7 linked regions of the Homo sapiens genome follow. The protein of the gene in region 2 purifies or fractionates together with the protein of the main gene of each other region. This does not show direct contact. Each region holds a gene or a part of one and is shown on either strand. Other genes may lie near its edges.

Region 1 (2,168 bases), on a different chromosome or scaffold from region 2:
TCAAATGTCACAACTTGCCTATTATTTATTTTAGTGCATTTTTTTGTGCTTTTCCCAGTTTGGTGTTAGGTGGCCTTAAGTTCTCAGTAATGACACTTATCAAATAGGAACTTAGTGTTACTCACCTTTATCCATTCCCCCAACACTCAACAAATTGCCTTTGCTATATCCCTATGAGATGAGCAGATCAAATATTCCCCGTGAGTTAATGAAAACTGATTCAACCAAATGGCGAAGTCAGAGACTATCGGGGGCCATGGAGACACTCTGGGCCATTTTTATGAGGTAGTCTAGGCTCATCTTCATGAGGGAACTGAGGTCTTGGGGGGTGGGGGTTACCCAAATAGGTTCACAGAAGAACCAGAAATAAAACCTGCCTTTCTAGACTGTAAGTCTTGTGATTGTCATCTAAATGGTTGTCTCTATACAGCAACTCATCTCTAGAACTGAAAATAAGTTTAAATCCCTCCTCCATCCCCAATAATTCAAGCTGCATTTCAGAGAAAACCAGGACTTTGGAATCAGACAGATCAACTTTGAATTCTTGATCTGCTTCTTCATAGCTATTTATGCTTAGGCAAGTTTTGTTTTGTTTTGTTTTACGTTGCCACTCAGTCTTCTCATCTGTAAAACAGGGATAATAACACCTTCCTCAAATGGTTTTTTTTATTAGGACTAAAAGAGAGAATGTGTGGAAAGATGTTAGTGGAATTCCTGGCACATAGTTCACATGGACAAAATGGTGTTAACTACGAAAATTTTTACAGAGAAAAGGGCAACTGACAAAAGCAGGTGTTTGGAATGAATTAAGACCATGGCAGGCTTTTGAGGCCTTTATATTTCTCCTGACTGTGCAATAAAAATATTTTGGCTCTCTGTCTAAGACTTGGCTGTCACAGTAGCAATGGTAATATTAGCTACTGTGCCAGAAGCAGCCTATCAATAGAGAAATTGAAAATCTGACCACACAAATGCTGCAGCACCCAGCTGAAATGCATTTGGATGACAATCTCAGATGGGAATCGAGAGCATCTCCTTCTGCCTTGCTAATAGCAAGCTGATTTTTAGAATATAGTCTAAGTGCTTCTCTTCCATCCTCCCCAGATTCTCACCTGCTACACACCCCTCAGAGGGACTGGAGGAATCCAGACAACGATGCGCAGGGGCCCTGGTGCTATACTACTGATCCAGAACAGAGATATGACTACTGCGACATTCCTGAGTGTGAAGGGCAGGAGTGGCTCTAGAAAATGTTTTCATTTCTGCCCTTCACCTGTAAAATAATTTGTTGTAAAGCCCCTTCCCACAGGGATATTATTAATAATTGCGTAACGTGTTCACCTCTCGGAAAGGAGCAAAACTTTGCTCAGATCCCAGAATTAACCTGATTTTTTTTTTTTTTTCTGAGACAGAATTTTGCTCTCATTGCCCAGGCTAGAGTGCAATGGTGCGATCTCAGCTCACCACAACCTCCGCCTCCGGGTTCAAGCGATTCTCCTACCTCAGCCTCCCAAGTAGCTGGAATTACATGCATGTGCCACCATGCCTGGCTAATTTTACATTTTTAGTAGAGACAGGGTTTCTCCATGTTGGTCAGGCTGGTCTTGAACTCTCGACCTCAGGTGAGCCGCCCGCCTCAGCCTCCCAAAGTGCTGGGATTACAGGCATGAGCCACCATGCCCAGCAGACCTGAATTATTATTATTAAAATGTTACATCAACATGTACAAATATAAAACTACATCTAAACTCTAAGTACAGACTTCTTATGCTTAAAACTCTTACACAGTGTTAACCCCAAGACAGATTTGCAATTAAGTAGTTAAAATAAGACAACAAAGTCAATAAAAATCAAATAAACAATATACATTTAATGTGGTAGACTTTGCTGTTTTGCTGAAGCTAAGCAAGGAACCAGTTTTTAAATCAGCAATCCGTTATTTTAATGGACTGAGCAATTTAATAGTGCACCTCAAAGGTCAATGATAAAAACTAAAAAAAAAAAATACCTACTGAAAAAACTGTCATCGTTTCACATTTCTGGCTACGTTAGTGCAAAAGGGAATAAATAAAGGTGAGATTTGTGTGACAGTGTGGATATGGTACTGTGTGACAACTCAGTTCTCCCATCACTTCCACCTGTTTGAATCATCGGGATCCTTTATTTGT
Region 2 (3,314 bases):
CCTAGAGATGGCACTGCTGGACATGAGTGAAGAGGCCCCAGAGGACCTAGGCTACTTTGTAACATTAGGTGGCTTGGACTGGAGGGAGGGGCTGTTTCCAGCCACCCGGATGATGAGGGGAGCTTAGAGGAAATGGCGCTGACGGCCAGGTTCCAAGCCCTGCCCTACCACCCCGTCCCATGCTAGCTCCCAGATGGTGTCAAGCAGCCTTGCCTTTATGTGGATCCTGTGCACGTCAGCAACACCTGCCAAGGCAGCAGCCGATGCCCCAAGCAGGGCTGGGTGCTGCAGGATAGCTGTAGGCAGCTCAGGGCTGCTGCTCTCCCTGCACACTCCACCTAGGGGCTCCAGGCTCAGCTCTGCCTGGTCCTCAGGGGGTTTGATGGACGCCTGCAAGGGCTGCAAACCCTAGGTGCATTCTGCTGAAAGGTGGGTACCCAGCCTCTTCCACCTTAGCCTGTGGCAGCCGTGGGGGCCACACCAAGGACTAACCATGCCTCTTCCGGAACACAAGTTTATTTGGCATTTGGATGAAATGATTCTCACAGCATCTTAAGAAAAGTTAGTGTCAACCCAACCAAAAACTAAAAACCCTTAATGAAAACATAAAAAAACAGGCATCAAGACAATGTACAGTATCAAATCCCACCTCCGCATGGCAGGTCAGAGGGCACCTGGGCTCTGAGAAACCGTGGCAAGCTGGTCCTAGAGGAGGAGGACCCCTGGAGCACAAGGTTCAGCAAGGGTGACCCCGGGACTTGCTGGTCAGACTGGGGACTGCAGCAGGCCTTGCAAAGGGGGCATTCTGGATGGTGGTGCAAGAACAGATGAGCGAGTCCAGCTCTCCTCATGCTCCCAAGGGCCTCCTGGAGCCACAGTGGCAGCGGTGTTCCAGGCAGCCCTGCCATGTGGACCTTCTGCCTGGCCCAACGTGCCAGTGGCCTGAGTGCTTGTGGAGGCCCATGGGGAAGGGGCCACCCAGCAACCCCGGCCAGCCCAAGGCCCACCCTCTGCAGCCTGCATGGTCCACTTTACCCCGTTTCCTCACTGCCCCCTACGTGTCTGACCGGCCCCTAATGTTCCTCTGGTCCCCAAAGGAAGCGTCCCAGTCCCACACATCTCGTGCCAGCCACCCTGTCCCGCACACACAGTTCTGAGGCCTGGCAGGAATCCTCTGAGCTCTCAGGCTCAGGCCCGTGGGGGACTCTGCTGCGTGGTCCTCGGGCCCTCACTGGCCACCTGGCACCCATAATGCACATGCCTGCTGCTCTGGAACCTGGCTGCCCTGCCCCAGTGCATGTGGGATCCACGGCATGCTTCCTGCTTCGTCCTCTGCAGCCAGTAGGGGACTCCTGTGGCCAGGACTTCCTTGTTAAGTAGCAGCCCTTCTCCAAGGGGAGCACAAGCCTGCCCGCACACAGCCTCCAGCATCATGCTCCAGCAGGCCAAGCTCAGGGACAGGCAATTCAGTAACAAAACTCACAGCTCTGGACAGTTCTGGCACAAAGGTCAAGTCTGTCTGTGGGCAACTCAAGATTCTCATTCCACATGGGATGGAAAAAATGGGTCTCCAGCCACAGTGTGAGAATGTGTCAAGAAGTGGACTGTGCATGGAGTCCATCCCCGAGCAGCACCACAGAACTGCATGCTTCAGACAGGCCTCCCAGGTGCTGCCCCGCTGGTCTGGAAAGACTGAGCGAGACAGCACTGCCTCAGCACAGCCCAGGATGCATCGATGACCCTGGAAGAGTGGGCCCCCAGTGACCCGTGAAGTTCCATGTGCCACCCTCACCTGCAGACGCTTGGCCACATACACACACAGAGACACAAACATACAAAGGAAAGATCCAGACATTCAACGTAGAAAAGATATGGATGTGCTAAAAATCGCACAGAACCCGCTTAATCTCCAAACCTCAGAAATGTTAAAGGCCCTGTGTCAGGCAACAAAACCACTGCCCAGGAGCAGGCAACAGGGTCCGTCAGGCAAAAGGGTGCCAGGAAGGGCCCCCAGCCCCTGCGCTGCTGAGGAGGGGCCGGGAGGTGTGCATGCGGCCGCTGGGCACTGAGCTGCAGTAGTGGCGGTGATGTAAGGAGTGGACTTTAAGGAGATAGATGCAGCCCAGGATGGTGGTTTCAGCCACCCCTCCTGCAATGAAGCAACCCTTTATGGCACAAATGGGGCCGGGGGCAGGCCCAGGGGCAATTCAACAGGAGGCAAGAGCCCAGGGCTCCAGAGTGGAGAGACAGGAGGCAGCTCAGTCCCCAGACCCCAGCAGAGCATCTGGGGCCTCGGCCCCACTCCAGAGCTTCTTCCTGAGGGAGCCATGCACAGCAATGCTGGGAGAGGGACTGATGGGGTGGGGTCAGGCCTCCTGCCACAGAGCTGGGCTGCAGAGCCCAGATGGAAAGACACAGTGAAGAGCTCAACCTCCTTCCAAGCTCTCCTTCTCAGGGCTTCAGGTTCCAGAGCCCCAGGGGAGCTCCCAGCCAGGGGCAGGGTCACCTTGATATTCACAACTGGGCTTGTGGGGGCCATCTTCAGTGCAACCGTTGTGACAAAGTCAAGAGGCTGCCTCCCTGAAGCAGACCCACTGCCTACGCCACACTGACGGTCCAGAGGCCCCCTCCTGAGGGCGGCCAGCAAGGGGCACTGTGGCAGCTCCCACTGTGCCTGTCCCAGACTGGGTCAGCAGGTCTCTCTGGACAGCACACTGCACCAAGTAAGCCCACCAAAAACGCATCAGGTGTGGCCATGGCCCACAGTACCTTCTTCATTCCCTGCCTCTAACATGTGCGGTCTGAATGAATTTTGTCACTCTTCTGCCATTTATAAAGGAGAAGACAGTGATCCAAAGCTATGCATGTTTCTGAAGCCCTCAAGGAAGCTCGGTGCAGGCCATCACTTCTTTTGGCAGAAGGCGGGCTGTGGTCTCTATGTACACACGCGAGCCCGCCAGTGACGTGCGGCAGTGCGTGGCGTCCAGGCTGGGACAGGGGCCTTTCAAGTCTCCCCAGGGACCGGTGTTTTCTACAACAGACAGGTGCTCCCAGACCGTTGGGGTACAGGCCAGGCCGTCTACACCACAGTATTGAGGGAGCTGCGGCTGTGGCGGCCACCCCCTGGCAGTGCCTCTGCAGCTGGGGTGCTCCCGCTCTGGGCAGGGTCAGGGGGCACGAGCAGGGCGCTGCTGCTGTCGGCAGAGTCTTCCAGGTCTGCCAGAGAGGCCCCCGCAGTGGGCAGAGGCTGCTCCAGGCGCCGGAGTAATGCACCTTCACTCCCACCATCCCCAGGGGCTGGCAGGCTGACCTCC
Region 3 (3,500 bases), on a different chromosome or scaffold from region 2:
AAGTTCAAGTCTTTGCTACTGCACAAGCGAACCGCTATCCAGCATGCCTACCGCCTGCTCATCAGCCAGAGGGTAGGAACTATGGGCCAGGGAGGGGCTTGGTCCCTGTCCTCCCTCCCTTGCCCAGAGCAGCCCCTAAGCATGGCCAGGCCAGCCACTTTAGAAACCAGGAACCCTGCCCTTGGAAGAATGAACAGAGCTGGAGTGGATCTGGAGTGGGTGCCCCAAGGGAAGGGGAGTAGCCTGGGTTCCACACTGCTCTTCCCTCTCCCCCAGAGGCCTGCCGGCATCTCCTACAGGCAGTTTGAAGGCCTCATGCGCTTCTACAAGCCCCGGATGAGTGCCAGGGAGCGCTATCTTACCTTCAAGGCCCTGAATCAGAACAACACACCCCTGCTCAGGTAAGAGCAGATGCCTGGTAGGGGCAGCATGGCCAGACAAGGTGTTCACGTCTAGAGTGAACGGGGGCATGTGAAGGCCCTTGAGGTGGGCAGGCCTATAGGCTTGTCAGAGACTTCCTCCACAGATGTTTATCCATGTAGACTTACACACTGGATTCATCAGGATGCCTTTTGCAAGTGACAAAAGTCCAACACAAATCCAATTCAAGCTGACTTGAGAAAAAAGGAGCTCATGAAGTGGACTGGCCCAGCTGCTGGCCCTCGAACCCCCAGTGGGGTGGGATAGTCCCATGTGAGCCAGGTGGACAGACAGGGGTGAATATACTTCCCCAATCCCCTGCACACACCTGGCTCGGCCGCAGAGAACTGACCCGAGATCTCCAGGGGTAGGATTGGTCTTCCAGGCTGTTGATGACCAAGCCCTGTCCACAGCAGCCTGCTGTGGAGCTGAGAACAAGCCCTGTTTGAGCTGAACTTGCAGTCCCAGGTGTTGCATTAAGGCCCCTGCTAAAAAGTGAAGTTTCCGTCCTCCTAAGAATCCTAGTGCTCCAGCAGCTGCCTCTCCAGGGCACTGACACTGTCCGTAGTTAGTGCCATCGGTGGAGACTTAAGTGGATTACATATTTGTAGTACCTCAAGGTCAGAGGAGATCCAAACGCTTGCAGGTAAAGGATCCCCCAGCACTGCTGTGCTGGGACTCACATGGTGTCCCCTCTCTTCCTCCCTCACCCCATAAAGGTGTCCATAGGCAGGCAAGTAAGAGAAGCAAAGCACAGTGGAACTATGTTCTGATATTTTGTCCCTTTTTATTTTGCTTTTGGTAGCCTAAAGGACTTTTACGATATCTACGAAGTTGCTGCTTTGAAGTGGAAGGTGAGTTCTTCTCTGAGACCATAGAAGGAGTAGACAGAGAGGTCCCCACGTGGGGCAGTGAGGAGCAGGGGCACCCCGAGATCCAGCTCTCTCCCTGCTAGAGCAGCTCAGCCCCCAGCTTGGCATGGTACACTTCAGGGATCACAGGTGGCCCCAGCCCCCAAATCTGCCCTTACATTTGTGATACAGTGTCATCGTTAACAGCACCGAATCTTACTTAGACCCCATTGGTTATTGTGTGACATCAGGCGGGTTACTGAGCCTTTCTGAGGCTTGTCTTACCTGGGAAGTGGCGTAAGGATAATCCCTACTGACAAACCTCATTTCAGGACTATACTAAAATAAGGCCTCTGCATGGCACATTGTAAACGCTCGGTACACACTGGCTGGCTGTGTTGTCATGTAGATCCCTGAAGGTTAACATTGTTCCCCAGTTTAGCAGGGTGAACAGGAAAGGAAGCCAGCATCCTGGCTCCAGGCAGGGCCCTGGTCCCTGGCCCTGACACCCTCCCTCTTGGTCCTGTTGTCTACCAGGCCAAGAAAAACAGAGAGCACTGGTTTGATGAGCTTCCCAGGACGGCGCTCCTCATCTTCAAAGGTAAGTGGGCTTGAGTATGGCAGGTGTTGGCAGCTGGGGGCCGATGGAGGTTTTCAGAGACCACAGATAAGCGTCTGAGGAGAGGTTCAGAGGGGTGTGTGTGTGTGTGTGTTTGTCTGAATGCCTGTGTGAAGAGACAGTGTGATTACCCCAGCAGGGACGTAAGGGTGGTAGGAAGCAGATTGGGAGAGAAATGGGTAACTTAACCCAACCAAAATGGGTAACTTAACCCAACCAAGACATTTGGGGTATTTTTCTTTTTTCATACAAAAGCAAAGATGTTCATTGAAGAAACTTGAAAGTGAGATAATTAGAAGTAAATGGAAATTTACCACCCAGATAACCACTGTTAGTTCTCTGATGTGTTTCCCTCTGTGCCATTTTTCTATGCATTTTTAAAACAGTAGGGTGACATTATATATTCCATTCTGTAATCTGCCTTTTCATCCAATAACACATATGTGTGTGTGTGTATATATATATGTGTGTGTGTGTGTGTGTGTATATATATGTGTGTGTGTGTGTATATATATATATATATATATATATATATATATTTTTTTTTTTTTTTTTTTTTTTTTTGAGGCGGCGTCTCGCTCTGTTGCCCAGGCTGGAGTGCCGTGGTGCGATCTCGCTCACTGCAACCTCCGCCTCCCAGATTCAAGCGATTCTCCTGCCTCAGCCTCCCGAGTAGCTGGGACTACAGGCATGTGCCACCATGCCCGGCTAATTTTGTGTGTGTGTGTTTTTAGTAGAGATGGAGTTTCACCATGCTGGCCAGGCTGATCTTGAACTCCTGACCTCGTGATCCACCCACCTCGGCCTCCCAAAGGCCTGGGATTACAGGCGTGAGCCACTGCGCCCGACCCCGATAATATATTTTTGCCCTCCTCTTATGGCAGGATGTATACTTTGCATGACCCCTTGAATAATGCTTGTGTAGTGTAAAGTTTGAAAATTTGAAATTGGGTGCTCGTATTATTTACCTGACAGTTGCCCCTTAATTTCATGCCAGTTTCAGCAGTGATCAGGAGAGCTTTGTCCTGCTCTATCTTGGTTCCAGGTTGCTCAGGCTCCCCCCAGAGCAGCTGTAGTCAGTGCAGTCTTGTCTGGGGGTCTGAGCAGAAGCATGGGTACCACTCTTTGAGCAGGACCCTCCTTTCTTCACCTCTGGGGTAAAGACCATGCTTACCTGCATGCACGAAGAGTGTGGTAGGTGGTTGCACCTGCCCAGAAAGAGATAATAATAATTAAGGATACAGTAGGGGGAACAAGTGCGTAAATTTACATTTTAACTTGTCTTTTCTTCAAATAGGTATTAATATCCTTGTGAAGTCCAAGGCCTTCCAGTATTTCATGTGTAAGTGTGAAATATCTCCACTCTAGGCCACTTTCCCCCTGAGTCCTTTGCTGTTCTAGAAGCGGGAGAGGCAAGAGATTGGTCCTAGAGTCCTGTGTTTGACTTTTTATTGTGGGGAATTCCCAGCATGTATAAAAGTGAAGAGAACATTACCACACGCATCCCCGTGCCCATCACCCATCTGTATCTTCACTCCGGCTCATCATCCTCTCTAGACCTAGATTTTTTGGAAGCAAATTCCAGAACCACAGAGTTGACTGGTCGATAT
Region 4 (3,500 bases), on a different chromosome or scaffold from region 2:
TCTGTGGATCCTATGTACAGAGAGTACAGGTATAGTCCTCTCCATTTTTTTTCTTGCCTAAATGGAAACATATTATAATCACTTTTCTACATCTTGCTTTAAAAAAAAATTATTTTGGGCTGGGCGTGGTGGCTCACTCTTGTAATACCAGTGCTTTGGGAGGCTGAGGCAGGAGGACTGCTTGAGGTGAAGAGCTTGAGGCCAGCCTGGGCAGGATGGTAAGACCCTATCTCTATGAAAAATTTTAAAAAGTTAGCCAGGCATGGTGCCTTGCATCTGGAATTCCAGCTACTCAGGAGGCCAAGGCAGGTGGATCACTTAAGCCCAGGAGTTTGAGGCTGCAGTGAGTTATGATTGTTCCACTACACTCTAGCCTGGGCAACAGAGCATGATCCTGTCTCTAAAAAACAAACAAAAAACAATTTATCTTGGAGATCAATCCTTAACATATAGAGATGAGAAGTATAGAATAATAGTTTAGACTAGACAGTAGTTTAGATTAGAGTGGCAGTTCTGAACTTTTGATCTCAGCAACGTTTTATACTCTTAAAAATTACTGATATGCATGGTACAGGAAGCGAAAAAAAATTACTGAAGACCTCAAAAGAGCTTTCATTTATATGACTTCTATCAATCCACATCTACTATACCAGAAATGAAAACAAAAAATTTTTAAACAGTGATGATGTAATTACATGTCATGTAGCCTCTCAAAAACTCCACTGTATAATCATGAGAAAATTAGTGAAAAAGACAAGTAACATGTTTATATCATTATGACTACAGTTTTAAACTTGCAGACCTATCCCCTAAAAGGGTCTTGGGGTTCCCCAACCACCCTTTGAGAACTGCTGGATTAGAGATGAGCTCTGGAGTCAAAATGCCTTGGTTTAGCTTTGATTTTGCTGTGTACTTAACCTCTATAGCTTGGTGTTATCTTCTGAAATGGGCTAATAATTATATTTCACAGAGTTGATATTGTGATTAAATAAAGTCTTCATCAAAGTGCTTGAGAGCATTTAATACTAAATAAATATTACCTAGTACTATATATCTACCTCTTTTTTTTTTTTTTGAGACAGAGCCCAGGCTGGAGTGCAGTGGCGCGATCCTGGCTCACTGCAACCTCTGCCTTCTGGGTTCAAGTGATTCTCCTGCCTCAGCCTCCCGAGTAGCTGTGACTACAGGCTTGCATCACCACACCCAGCTAGTTTTTTGTATTTTTAGTAGAGACAGGGTTTCACTGTATTGGCCAGGCTGGTCTCGAACTCTTGACCTCAAGTGATCCACCTGCCTTGGCCTCCTAAAGTGCTGGGATTACAGGCATGAGCCACCACGCCTGGCCTACCTCATTCTTTTTAAAATCTAAATATTATTGCATTGTATCAATGTATAATATATACATTACCTACTAATTTGTATTGAGAAGGTCTTCAGTCTTTTGCTACTATATAATTCAGTAAGGCAGGCAGAGATTCGGAGCTTCGTTGGGAAATTCATCGTAAGTCAGTAACACAGGTTGGACTCTAATGCAGGGTCTGGGCTGTCAGCAGATCCCTTCCACATGAGCTGCCCATGGGGAGTCTTTGAATCCCCAGCCCAGTTTCCAATCTCTGCTTCCATGGCAGACACTCAGGACTCCCTCTCCTAAATTTACTATTTGTTTAATAATGCTTTATTGAGAAATAATCCACGTACCATAAAGTTCACCCTTTTAAAATGTACAATTCATTAGTTTTTAAATACATTTTTAGAGGTGTGCATCTATCACCACTATCTCATTTCAGGACATTTTTATCACCCCAAAAAGAAACTCTATACTCCTTAGTAGTCACTCCCACTTCTCCCCCAGCCCCTGGGACCCACTAATCTACTTTCCCCTCTATAGATTTGCTTATTCTGAATATTTTACATAAAAGGAGTTATATAACATGTAGCTTTTTGTATCTGGCTTCTTTCACTTACTGTAATTTTTTCAAGGTTCATCCATGTTGTAGCATGAATCTGTTCATCCCTTTTTGTTACAAAATAGTATTTCATTGTATGGATATACACCATGTTGCTTGTCCATTATCAGTTAATGGACATTGGGTTGTTTCCCCTTTGGGGTCGTTATGAATAATATTGCTATGGACATTCATGTACAAGTTTTTTTGTGGAAGTATATTTATATTTCTCTTGGAATATACTAGGAGTAGATTGCTAGGTCAATAATCTTAATTTTCTTCTGAACCTTAAGAGGAATTGCCATATTGTTTTCCAAACTGGCTGCATTCCTACCAGCAATGTACAAAGGTTCCAATTTATCTGCTTCTTTATAAACACTTATCATCCACCTTTTTGACTATAGACATTCCAGTGGGTATATCTCATTGTGGTTTTGATTTGCATTTCCCTAATGACTAAAGATGTTGAACAAGTTTACATATGCTTACTAACCATATATATATCTTCTTTATTCATATATGGAGGAATATATAGGAGGAATGCCTATTCAGACCCTTTGCCCATTTTTCCAATTGGGTTATTTGTCTTCTTATTGTTGAGTTTTAAGAGAACTTTGTACGTTCCAGATAAAGTCCCTTATCAGATATACAGTTTTTAAATGTTTTCTCCCATTCTGTGGGTTGACTTTTCACATTCTTTTTTTTTTTTTGAGATAGAGTTTCACTCTTGTCATCTAGGCTGGAGTGCGATGGCATGTTTTCGACTCACTGCAACCTCCTCCTCCCAGGTTCAAGCAATTCTCCTGCCTCAGACTCCCGAGTAGCTGGGATTATAGGCACCTGCCACCACACCCAGCTAATTTTTGTATTTTTAGTAGAGACGGGGTTTCACCATGTTGGCCAGGATGGTCTTGAACTCCTGACCTTGTGATCCACCTGCCTTGGCCTCCCAAAGTGCTGGGATTACAGGCGTGAGCCACCGCGCCTGGCCACAGAACTTTATTTTTTTTTAGAGACAGGGTAGGGTCCCTGTCACCCAGGCTGGAGTGCAGTGGCACGATCATAGCTCACTGCAGCCTCCAACTCCTGGGCTCAAGTAATTCTCCTGCCTCAGCCTCCCAAGTAGCTGAGACTACAGGCATGCACCATAACCCTGAGTTAATCCAAAAGAACTTTTTAAAGGCAGTCCCTTAATGGCAAAGTACTTCCTGACTTCACGAAGAAAATATCAATGGAGCCAGTCCAGAAAAAGGGCTCTCAGTGCCCAGGCCTTCTTGCTGTACAACCAAAAGGCTGGCAGCTGGTGTTCATCTTTTCCATTCAAGGCTCAGGGGTTAGCAACTTTATATATAATGGCAGCCCCCATCATAAACTGAACTGCATTTGCACAAAATAGCAGAGTTAGCCTATCCCTTCCTGCCTTATATCCTGATGCTCACTTCTCATCCTTACTAGTACAATGTCCTTTGTGACATTTCTTTTCCAGAATAGGGCACTTTTGTCTGCACTAAAAAGTTGATGAGGTAGGGCTGGCCGCAGGGTTCACACCTGTAA
Region 5 (3,500 bases), on a different chromosome or scaffold from region 2:
GCAAATGTATCAGGCTTGCCTATTTAAAAAGTTATTTGGCAAGAAAATATACTAAAAATGGTTTTGAGAGTAAAAATAGATCATGCCATACCTATTACTTTTGCCACAGAAAAGAACGATTCCCTTGCAGTCTATTTCTCAATGAGCACAAGACCGGTTTACTGTCCCAATAGTCGCCATACTCACTGTTAATCAGGAGCTCCAGGATACTCTCCGACGCACTGGTAACAGTCAACTCCAGACAGTGTGCAAAGCTGGACAGTGCCTTGCTGCGGACAGTAGGCGCCTTGTCTAAGCAACGATCAAACATAATTTCCTGCACCAGGAACTTATGCTTTAAGAACTTCTGATGCTCCAAGGAGAGGGTGTTATCCACCTCTCTTTCAGGCAGTTCTAACAGAGCTAAGACAACATCAAGAGTAAAAACCCGGTGTGGGATCTGGTAAAGCAAGATCATAAGAATTGCCATCAGATAGGAGTAAGAACCAAAGAACCCTCCTCATTCAGACCTAGAAAAAGAGACCCTTTTAAAAAGAGTTTAAAAAGGACCCAAGGTTTTATGCAGAGCTATCTCCTACCTTGGAACTTCGGGAGTATTTGTAAAGCCAGGCAATGAACATAGCGTATTCCCCACAAGGAAGTTTACTGAGCAGCTGGACTAGGGACTGGGCTGCAAAAGTACGATACTCTGATTTATCTACCACCTGAAAAGCAAAAAGAGAAGTTGACCAACCAATATCCACCCGCAGGATGGCTGAAACATATTCTGTAATATAAGTTGAAAGTCAGTGAGTACAACTAGTTCAATGACCTTTAAATGTTACGTAAATGACTAATAAATTTTAGGTTTTAGAACACTTCAAAACTAATCTAAAGGAAATCTATAAACCATCTCTCCAGAAAAATGCACATACAAATTTAGTATACAATTTCAGAGAGTTTTTAGATCCCCAGGTTTCATAAGGTTCAAATTAAGAATCATTTGTCTAAATGGTTATAAAAATGTAGAGATCATCATGGAAATTTGAACACTGGATGTTTGATAATATTAAGGAATTACCGTGAAAGGATATGATGGAATTTGCTTCAAAACACAATCCAGTATACACATGTTGGGGGATGTGGGGTAGGGGTTTAAGTGACACAAAACTGTGGAACTCGGTGATGGGTATGTGGTGGTTCACCAGCCTATTTTCCCTGTTTCTGTGTGTATGTTCAACATTTTTCCAAAACAAAGTTTTTTTGTTTTTTTGTTTTTTATAGAACACTTTTGTCTAGGGGACCATCTAGTGAACATTAAATAAAACCACTTTAAGTAACAATGCACACTCATTCCCAAGAACAAATACCCACACTCACACACACACACACACATTTATCTTCACACACGATATACTTCCATGTTATTAATATTACTAAGGCAAACAGTACCTTGGCACAGATGTGCTGCAGTAAGATACGGACGACTGGGAATATACTCTCCTTTAATTCATCCACAAGGGCGCTTTGTAAAAGAAAAACACATCTACTGTTCACAATACAGTCAGCGACTGTCCCCAAAAACCACTACTCCTATATTTAGAAATCCTAGTTATTAAAACACTCTACCTCACGCTATAAGAGTGGTTTCAGTAGAATGAAGAGTGAAGACATAAAATGTCATCGTAGAAAACTGTGAAGTAGTTCCCGTGCAGTTTTGAGAGCTGCTGCAGAGTAGCTAAGTCATCAGGTAAGAACAAAAATGTAATCTTCATACAATTCTTTTGACTACTTACTAAATTTCATATGAAGATGTAAAATATATCCTTTGGGGATAAATATAAAAATTGACTAAGACACAGTACCACCTCATGGTAGCTCAGTGAAATGCATTAGTAACATTACTTCTCCAAACTTTAACCCAATAAGAAATTTCTTTTTTTTTTTTTTGTAGATGGAGTTTTGCTCTTGTCGCTCAGGCTGGAGCGCAATGGTGTGATCTCGGCTCACTGCAACTTCCCCCACCGGGTTCAAGAGTTTCTCCTGCCTCAGCCTCCCGAGTAGCTGGGATTACAGGTGCCCGCCACCACGCCTAGTTTCTGTATTTTTTAGTAGAGACAGGGTTTCACCATGTTGGCCAGGCTCGTCTTCAACTCCTGACCTCAGGTGATCCGCCCGCCTCGGCCTCCCAAAGTGCTGGGATTACAGGCATGTGCCACCGCGCCCCGCCTCAAGAAGAAATTTCTACAATGCCCAGACTTGATCCATTTTTAGTGATGTTTATCTGTAACATTACATGAAGACTATTGCGACTGGCATATGAGAAACTCTCATGGAAAAAACGAAACGATCGTGTTTTCACTTAAAACATTTTAGTTACTTAATGTTTTAAAAAGTCCTTAGTGAGAGACATTTGCTCAGTCACAAGATGACGTCATACACACCCCATGTCTCCAACTACCCTGCACACTGTGCACACCCAAGGCATGCACACACTTGCACATGCACACCATGTCTCGGCACCACCTCCACACTGCACGCCAAAAATCAGTGAAGGAGGGAAGGAAAAGCCAACAACGCAGCAAACATGTCCTTGCCAGTGAAACTAAGGCATGAGAGTTTTTAAGTGAAGCTGAGTGACCCATGAGAGGAAAAGTAGTCTAACACTTATTGCTACGGAGGTAAAAAGCAACTCAATCCTTTCCTTCAAGTCATTTCTACAGAGGGAAAGGAATAGAAAAGTGCAAAGAAACAAGAAGAAAGTGGCAAAGAACAAAAGCAAAGAGCTGCAAAGTAGAGAGCAACAGAAAAGGGAAAGAGGTGAACTGGCTGCAATGAAGCAGACAAGGGAAAGGAGGAGAGGCCACCATCCTCTCTCTGAGGCTGACCCACATATTGAGCGCAAACAAGCTGGAGGCTGGCGCTGGCCCGTGTTCTGCAGATTCCTATCTCTTTAACAGTGCCCCAGCTGGGAGCCTACCAACAGAGACCCAGACACATAAAGCACATTAGCTACGAAGTGCTTGGTTTTCACCCCCAAAACCACCATCAGGCCAGAAATTTTAAGTCTACATGTATCAGAAATCTTAGTGCAGGGCCCAGAGTACTGAGGGAGACTGACAGGGTGAAAATTCACGATTTGTGTGCTTCACCTGATAAACTGGACCGCCTGGTTTCTACAGTTGATGACTTGGGAGGTAACAGCAAGGGGGGCACGATGGGATCCTTCACCAACTTCTAACATTAATATTACACTGAGCATTTGATGGAAAACACAACTGATGACCTAGAAGAGAAAAGAAAATTCAATTTAAGATCGGATGGAGAACACAAGGGTCTCAGACATAGTGATGCAGACTGTAGTAAACCATTTCAAGCCATCTGAAGGTAGGTCAGGCTGGCATAATTGCTGGCTGAACACTAGGGATATATTTCTTAAACAATGAGCAGGGATACAATAAATGCACAATGTAAACAGTGTGAAAGAATGGCTGACAGATGATATGTCTGATAAAAACAAT
Region 6 (2,491 bases), on a different chromosome or scaffold from region 2:
CCTGTCCTAACCATCCTTTCGCTCCTTCTGACCCAGATGGCTATGATATGGACAGCACACACACGGTCATCCTTCCTGACAGCTCCTCGGAATGCAGTTACCACTCTGAATCTTGACAGTTGGTCAATAATTAGCATTATATTCTTGCGGGGTGGCACAACTGCTGGGCTCCTCTTTCCTCCTTTTTTATTTTTATCATCCTTTCAGTGGGCAGTAGCTGGCCTTAAGCCACAATTCAGAAAGCTTTAATGTCTTCAGCATTCCTTTGCATCCATACTAGACAAACAAATTAATTTGGAAAACACAAATGAATGGGAAAGAAACTAAGTTTTTGAAAATTAGAGTCTAAAAGTGACATTCTCATCAAACTCACGGCAGTAAGATGGAAGTAAAATGGCTAAGGTCCAGAGTGCTGTCCCTCACCTACTAAATCAGAAAGCAGACAAAACAGAGCAAGGCCCAGAGGCTCACGTCTGTAATCCCAGCACTTCGGGAGGCCAAGGTGGGAGGACTGCTTGAGCTCAGGAGTTCAAGACCAGCCTGGGCAACGTGGCAAAACCCTGTGTCTACAAAAAATATAAAAAAATTAGCTGGGCATGGTGGTGCATGCCTGTAGTCCTAGCTACTCGGAGGCTGAGGTGGGAGGCTGGCTTGAGCCTGGAAGGCAGAGGTTGCAGTGAGCCAAGATCATGCCACTGCACTCCAGCATGGGTGACAGCCAGACCTTATCACAAATAAACAAAAACAACTGCCAGCATGGTGGCTCACACCTATAATTACTCCTAGCACTTTGGGAGGCCAAGGCGGGCGGATCGCTTGAGCTCAAGAGTTTGAGACGTGCCTGGGCCTTGTCTCTACAAAAATACAAAAATTAGCCAGGTGTGGTGGTATGCGCCTGTAGTCCCAGTTACTCAGGAGGCTGAGGTGGGAGGATCGCTTGAGCCTGGGAGGTGGAGGTTGCAGTGAGCTCATGTGCCACTGCACTCCAGCCTGGATGACAGAGCCAGACTGTCTCAAACAAACAAACAAAGAAAGCAAAAGGCCCTGAAACTGAGACTCAGTTTGGAGATTAGACCACATTCTTCTTATGCATGTTTTTATTATGCAGGGTTACAGATACCTCTTAATAATGGCATTGCATCATTTCACATAAATACGGAGTTTCCTGAATAAGGTTAAATTGAACAGACTCCTATCTTCATTATAAGATATTTGCCTTGTTAGAAGTGGTCCAATCATAAATAAAATTTGTGAATTTTATCACTGGAACTCAGCTATTAGGGCTTACTAGATCCATCCCTATTAAAAATTTAAAAATAAAATAAGGCTTCTGATTAATGTTTTCCATTATCTTGTTTCCAAATAATACTTGAGAAAATTAAATGACTATTCTGTATAAATCCATCAAAAGCAATCACATTTTGCCTTCTGTTTTTTAAATTTCTCATGTCAAGTCATGAAATGCAAATAAGTCTACGGGGAAATTTTTTCCATGAATATACTAATTTCTTTATGGACTTTTCAGAAGGTGTCATATTTTAAATGTATCTGTTTAAGAAAGTGAGAGTTTGGAGGAAGCATCTTGGAAACCTCACTGAATGTGGAATATACTGGTACAAACATTAGTCTCCACATTTCTCAAGATGAAACACAGAATTGTGACTATGAAGTAATGAAACTGATGCCACAAGCCATCCATGAAAATCAGCCACAACCCAGATGGAACATGATGCTTGTACCCTACAAAGTGCGTGAGGAGCTAAACGGACGATGTACCTGACAGCACTTTGAAACTATAAAGCACTATGCAAGCATATTCTACCATTTCTTTCAAACACTTGAATGCATTTTTACCATTTCTGATTGTTGCACAGGTAAAACAGATTTTCCTTTATTTATTGCAGAATTTCTGCTAAATTATAAACGCAATATATGCTAGAAAATTGTGACCATACTTCTTTGACCAAGATCCATTCATTTTGTGCACAAGAAAAATGTTTTGACCCCAGAAGTGGTTTGGGCTCAGGGATTGGGATTTTTCACACTGAAAACCAATGGTGCATTGTAGAATAGATGAAGGGAAACAGGGAAACTTTCCCTGTTTTGGCATTTCACTGATAATTTCAAAATCTTTGAGTTGCTCCTTCACAGATCAGCTCCCTACACACTTTACACTCTCGTTGTGTAAGTGCATCCTGGCTTCAACACTTGACCAGTATTGACATACTATTACTTGCCATTGCTTCCCAATAGAAACAGCATTGATGTAATTTTTTTTAGCCACACTATCATCTATATATGAAGCCATTATTGAATCTCCCAGATGGAAAAAGCTGTTCTCTTCTCTCTTCATTCCTTGATTGTAGAACTTACCAAATTTTATTAAAAACACTTTTTTGAACCTTGGAGTCTACTCTACTACACTGTGAGCTGAGCTTTTCAAAGGCAGATTTAGACTCTTGTAGCTCCATCGTCAAACAAACATCAAACT
Region 7 (4,166 bases), on a different chromosome or scaffold from region 2:
AGAGCTATAGTAACCAAAACAGCATGGTACTGGTATAAAAACAGACACACAGACAAATGGAACAGAATACAGTACCCAGAAATAAATCCACACACTTAGGGCATGGCTACACGGAGGAAGGGGTTTCTGAGCACAATACTCTGTGTGTGTTAACTTTGTAGTTTTGAAGTTAACAAGACCCTGGGCTCGCTATGCAGTCCGTATGTGATGTTGAACCCTTTACACACAGCACTAGACGGTTTTGAACCTATCAAAACACTGCTTCACTTAAATTTCACCAACTCCTTAAAATCCTAGTAAGTCTATGTTTTCCTTTGTTCCTATGTTCTCCTTTTCTCCCACTTTGTGGGTTGTCTGTTTACTCTGCTGATTATTTTTTTTGCTGTGCAGAAGCTTTTTAGTTTAATTAAGTTCAGTCTATTTATCTTTGTTTCTGTTGCATTTGCTTTTGGGTTCTTCATCGCGAAGTCTTTGCCTAAGCCAATGTCTAGAAGGTATTTTTCCGGTGTTATCTTGAGCAATTTTTATGACTTCGGGTCTTAGATTTAAGTCTTTGATGCATCTTGAGTTGATTTTTGTATAAGGTGAGAGATGAGGATCCAGTTTAATTCTTCTACATGTGGGTCACCAATTATCCCAGCACCATTTGTTGAAAAGGGTGTCCTTTCCCCACTTTATGTTTTTGTTTGCTTTGCTGAAGATCAGTTGGCTAATCAGATACCTCATAGCTCCTTTGTTGTATAATTTTGTGCATTGTAGATCAGGGTCAAAATGATAAAGGTGATTTTCTGGGACTACAGACTTGTCAATAACAGGTGGTCCTAGGCTGATAGAGGTAAACAAATAAAAGCTTTAAAAGAATATTCTCTGTTAAAATTTGCTTTCATAAATTTCATGTTTAAAATCATTTGTGAATAAATGTTAAAATAAAAAGGTGAGCCACGATTTTGGTAAGGCAATTTCTGAGCAAATCACACACAATTTTTTTTCATTCCCATTGATCTATTACATAGACGAATATTTGGTTGTGAAAAAGTGAGAGAAAGAACTCGGCTATTTTATTATAGTAGAGCAACACCGAAGGGAGACGACTTCGCTGTAGCTCAGAGTCTTTTTCCATTCTTCACCCACGCGCGGGGCAGTCGCGCGGCGCGGTCGCGCGGCGGGTAGGAACTACCATCCCAGCATCCTCTGCGGCGCGGGGAAGGAAGCCCGGGAATGAGAGAAAGAGGCTCCGGGGAGATAGCGGACCAGTGAGGGCTGCCCCTCTTTTGAAGCGGTTTTCGTCTCTTTCCGCCAGTGGCCTCCCAGCTCACGCAGGGGCGGGTCCCGGTAGCGCGAGGCGGTGCAGGGCGGGAAGGGGAGTGGTGGCGGCTGCGGCAGTAGGGACAGCAGGAGCAGTGGTGCTGTCAGCGCGGCCGTCGGAGACATGGGAGACCCGGGGTCGGAAGTGAGTAGTCGAGTGAGGGTCCTGGCGTTCTCAGAGGCGAACCGCGAAGGGTTTGTGTTTTCTGCGGTCTGAGGCCTGGTGCTCCGTCGCAGCCTCGGGGCGATACCTCTTCAGTGTCTTGGGCCGAGCCCAGCTCTGGGGCCTGGTGCGTGTCTGAGCGAGGAACCCGCAGCAACAATGGCCGCCCGGCCCCCCGCACGGGCCCTGGCGTTCGTTGTGGCCGCGGCTGGGCCAGTGGGAGCGACGTTTTAAGGCAGGATTGCCCTTCGGTGTTGAGCTTGCGTTCCTCCTGGAGTAGATAAGGGGAATTGTGAGAGGCTGGTAACTAACGCGTTTTCAGCGTTGGGTCCCTGCAGCTCCGCACACTCTGTGGCAAGAGCCAGAGCTCGAGTTCCGTTCCTAGTCGGGTTTCCGTGAAATTGTGCTCAGTTCGTTTTCCTCAAGAGCTCTCTGTCTTTAATTGTTCCTTTCGGAAACGCTCTCTTCCTACACGAATGTGGCTGAACAGATAAGCATGTTTTGGCTTGTTTTTATAGATAATAGAATCTGTCCCTCCAGCTGGCCCTGAGGCATCTGAGTCAACAACGGATGAAAATGAAGACGACATTCAGTTTGTCAGTGTAAGTAGCAATGATGATTGGGGTTTTCCCAGAGTAAAAGACTATGGTGGGCCATTATGTAATGTTACCTCACCTGGTCATTTAATGTTCATGAGTGTCTAATACATACTAGACACTGGAGCATGGCGCAGGATTGGGAAATTTACCAAAAGAGCTATCTGAGCCACCCCCGTAGCCATCACAAAGAGCACGTCCTAAAGAACGTGCTGTACACTTAATCTCGCCCCCTGCCTTTCATTTAAACTTAAGATAAAAACGCTGGTGTCTAAAACGCTGTTTTGAAATGGAGCAAGAGTAACTTCTAAAGGCGACACGGAGGAAGGAGCTGCTAATGATGAGCAAGGACGTAGAAAACAGGAAGGGTTGTGAGAGCCCAGAATCTTAGCGTTATGGTGCTTCTAACATGAAGGCAAATAGCTTGAAGATTTCTCTAACCTCTGAGATCATCATGTTACGGCATAGTACAGTTGATGCTCATAATGAAGAATCCTACATCACTGGGAACATGCTCTATTTTTCTGAGTTTGTTCCCTTTGAGACAGTAGTTTTCAAGCCTTAGTAAGTATAAACAGGCAGATTCCTGGGCCCCACTGCAGACCTACCGAATCAGAATTTCCAGGCGGGGGCCTAGGAATCTTCATTTTCAGACAAGTGCAGGGACATAAGGATTTCTGAGCACACTTTGGACAGAATGGGTTTCTAAAGCAGAAGGGAGTGTTTTATGATATATTTTGGGGTGATTTTCATCCATAATTGTTGGAGTTTTAGAAAGGCTTTGCGTAAAGTGGTATCTCAGCTCGCCAGGCAGAAAACAGTTCTGTCCCCAACTCGTCTTTTGGAATGCCGTAGTTAGTTGCAGTTTGGTATTCAGGCTGTAGAATTTTTCTTTAATGGAGTGTCTGTCTAATGTTTCTGTGTTTTTTAGTTTTTGTAGGTTTAGGGCGACTTTGTAAGTCACTTGTTTTTTAAATTAAAATTTCCTCCCTAAACATTGTTTTGTTAACATCGTTGTTTGTTTTTCGTGTTTTGTGTATAAGTTCTTTACCCTGTCACTTTCTGGACATATTTCCCAATTAATAGTGTGTGTATATTTTGTTCCTGACATTTGGAACCTTTCTAAATATTGATGATACCAAGGGAGATTGTATGCTGACTCTGCCTTCACTGTTGTTATGGAGTAAGCAACGTAACTTGAAATCAAAGAGCAATGGTTTCTGTTTTTGTAACGAGAAACATTTGGGAAGAGGAGTTCATGGGTCTTTAGGAAAAATAATTTTGGTTTCCTCTTAACTGGTATAAAAACAGGAATGATTGGGACAGATGATCTTGATGAGTTTTTTGTGCATCTGTATGTAGAAGTGACACACGTCTGATTGATGATCCATGTGCCATTGAGAAAGTATGTAGAAGTGACATACGTCTGATTCATGATCCATGTGCCGTTGAGAAACACAGATGGGATGTACAAAATTAAGTTTGGAAAAGTAAATAGGTATAGATTTGTGTAATATCCTGAGGAATAAATCATTATATTTTAAATTGTGAGTTAATATATAGGCTGTGTTTAGCTGAGGTTTAAAACTCTTACTTTAAATTTTATTTTAAATATAAAGATCCTTCTACATCTTTTCATACAATATTTTGTATATCCAGCGTGATAGAACCCTTTATATTTAACCCTGTTCAAAATAGAAGATCAAAGGTTTGACAGCTCTTATATGGAGAAGTGAATTACATGCTGTCAGTGTAATTGCAGTACCAGAAAGAATGTAGTAAAACATCCCTGTTGCATTTCAGTGGTGCCACATAAAAGACAATGATAACTTAATTCCACTTTGAAATACACTCAGAGACAACTTTCCTTTGTAACCCCATCCTATACTGGGCTCTACCAGGATATGCTTATTTCTCTGTGTTTTTTATAGTACCATCCAGTAAAGATGCAATGCTGCTGGGTATAGTTCTCTGCTTGTGGGTTCTTCAGATTAAAAGAAAAAAAAGTTTGTTACTTCTTGATATATTCTGGTTTGGATTCCTTAGTCTTTTCATATAAATGTTGATTATCTAGCCTTCATTCTGCGTTGTGGCACAGAATC

What was found.
Region 1: the proteins of DGCR2 (region 2) and RGPD2 purify together in Homo sapiens (affinity purification with mass spectrometry; one large-scale study listed by BioGRID and IntAct). This does not show direct contact.
Region 3: the proteins of DGCR2 (region 2) and TPCN1 purify together in Homo sapiens (affinity purification with mass spectrometry; one large-scale study listed by BioGRID and IntAct). This does not show direct contact.
Region 4: the proteins of DGCR2 (region 2) and DNAJC18 purify together in Homo sapiens (co-immunoprecipitation; 2 studies listed by BioGRID and IntAct, with this or other methods). This does not show direct contact.
Region 5: the proteins of DGCR2 (region 2) and NCAPD3 purify together in Homo sapiens (co-immunoprecipitation; 2 studies listed by BioGRID and IntAct, with this or other methods). This does not show direct contact.
Region 6: the proteins of DGCR2 (region 2) and HECW2 purify together in Homo sapiens (affinity purification with mass spectrometry; one large-scale study listed by BioGRID and IntAct). This does not show direct contact.
Region 7: the proteins of DGCR2 (region 2) and KIAA1586 purify together in Homo sapiens (affinity purification with mass spectrometry; one large-scale study listed by BioGRID and IntAct). This does not show direct contact.

The regions. Positions count from the first base shown.
Region 1 is NC_000002.12:87,757,629-87,759,796, forward strand, and holds part of RGPD2 (RANBP2-like and GRIP domain-containing protein 2), read right to left. Parts: intron 1,849-2,168; exon of another isoform or gene 1-1,848.
Region 2 is NC_000022.11:19,035,786-19,039,099, forward strand, and holds the end of DGCR2 (integral membrane protein DGCR2/IDD isoform 1 precursor), read right to left. Parts: coding exon 3,080-3,314; 3' UTR 501-3,079; downstream 1-500. UniProt on the Homo sapiens protein: Putative adhesion receptor, that could be involved in cell-cell or cell-matrix interactions required for normal cell differentiation and migration.
Region 3 is NC_000012.12:113,276,964-113,280,463, forward strand, and holds part of TPCN1 (two pore channel protein 1), read left to right. Parts: coding exon 1-72; intron 73-276; coding exon 277-401; intron 402-1,225; coding exon 1,226-1,274; intron 1,275-1,808; coding exon 1,809-1,872; intron 1,873-3,187; coding exon 3,188-3,232; intron 3,233-3,500. UniProt on the Homo sapiens protein: Intracellular channel initially characterized as a non-selective Ca(2+)-permeable channel activated by NAADP (nicotinic acid adenine dinucleotide phosphate), it is also a voltage-gated highly-selective Na(+) channel activated directly by PI(3,5)P2 (phosphatidylinositol 3,5-bisphosphate) that senses pH changes and confers electrical excitability to organelles.
Region 4 is NC_000005.10:139,429,526-139,433,025, forward strand, and holds part of DNAJC18 (dnaJ homolog subfamily C member 18), read right to left. Parts: intron 1-3,500.
Region 5 is NC_000011.10:134,203,468-134,206,967, forward strand, and holds part of NCAPD3 (condensin-2 complex subunit D3), read right to left. Parts: intron 3,266-3,500; coding exon 3,132-3,265; intron 1,505-3,131; coding exon 1,432-1,504; intron 705-1,431; coding exon 579-704; intron 440-578; coding exon 187-439; intron 1-186.
Region 6 is NC_000002.12:196,196,064-196,198,554, forward strand, and holds part of HECW2 (E3 ubiquitin-protein ligase HECW2), read right to left. Parts: 3' UTR 1-2,491. UniProt on the Homo sapiens protein: E3 ubiquitin-protein ligase that mediates ubiquitination of TP73. Acts to stabilize TP73 and enhance activation of transcription by TP73. Involved in the regulation of mitotic metaphase/anaphase transition.
Region 7 is NC_000006.12:57,045,327-57,049,492, forward strand, and holds the start of KIAA1586 (E3 SUMO-protein ligase KIAA1586), read left to right. Parts: upstream 1-1,366; 5' UTR 1,367-1,429; coding exon 1,430-1,450; exon of another isoform or gene 1,451-1,595; intron 1,596-1,986; coding exon 1,987-2,070; intron 2,071-4,166.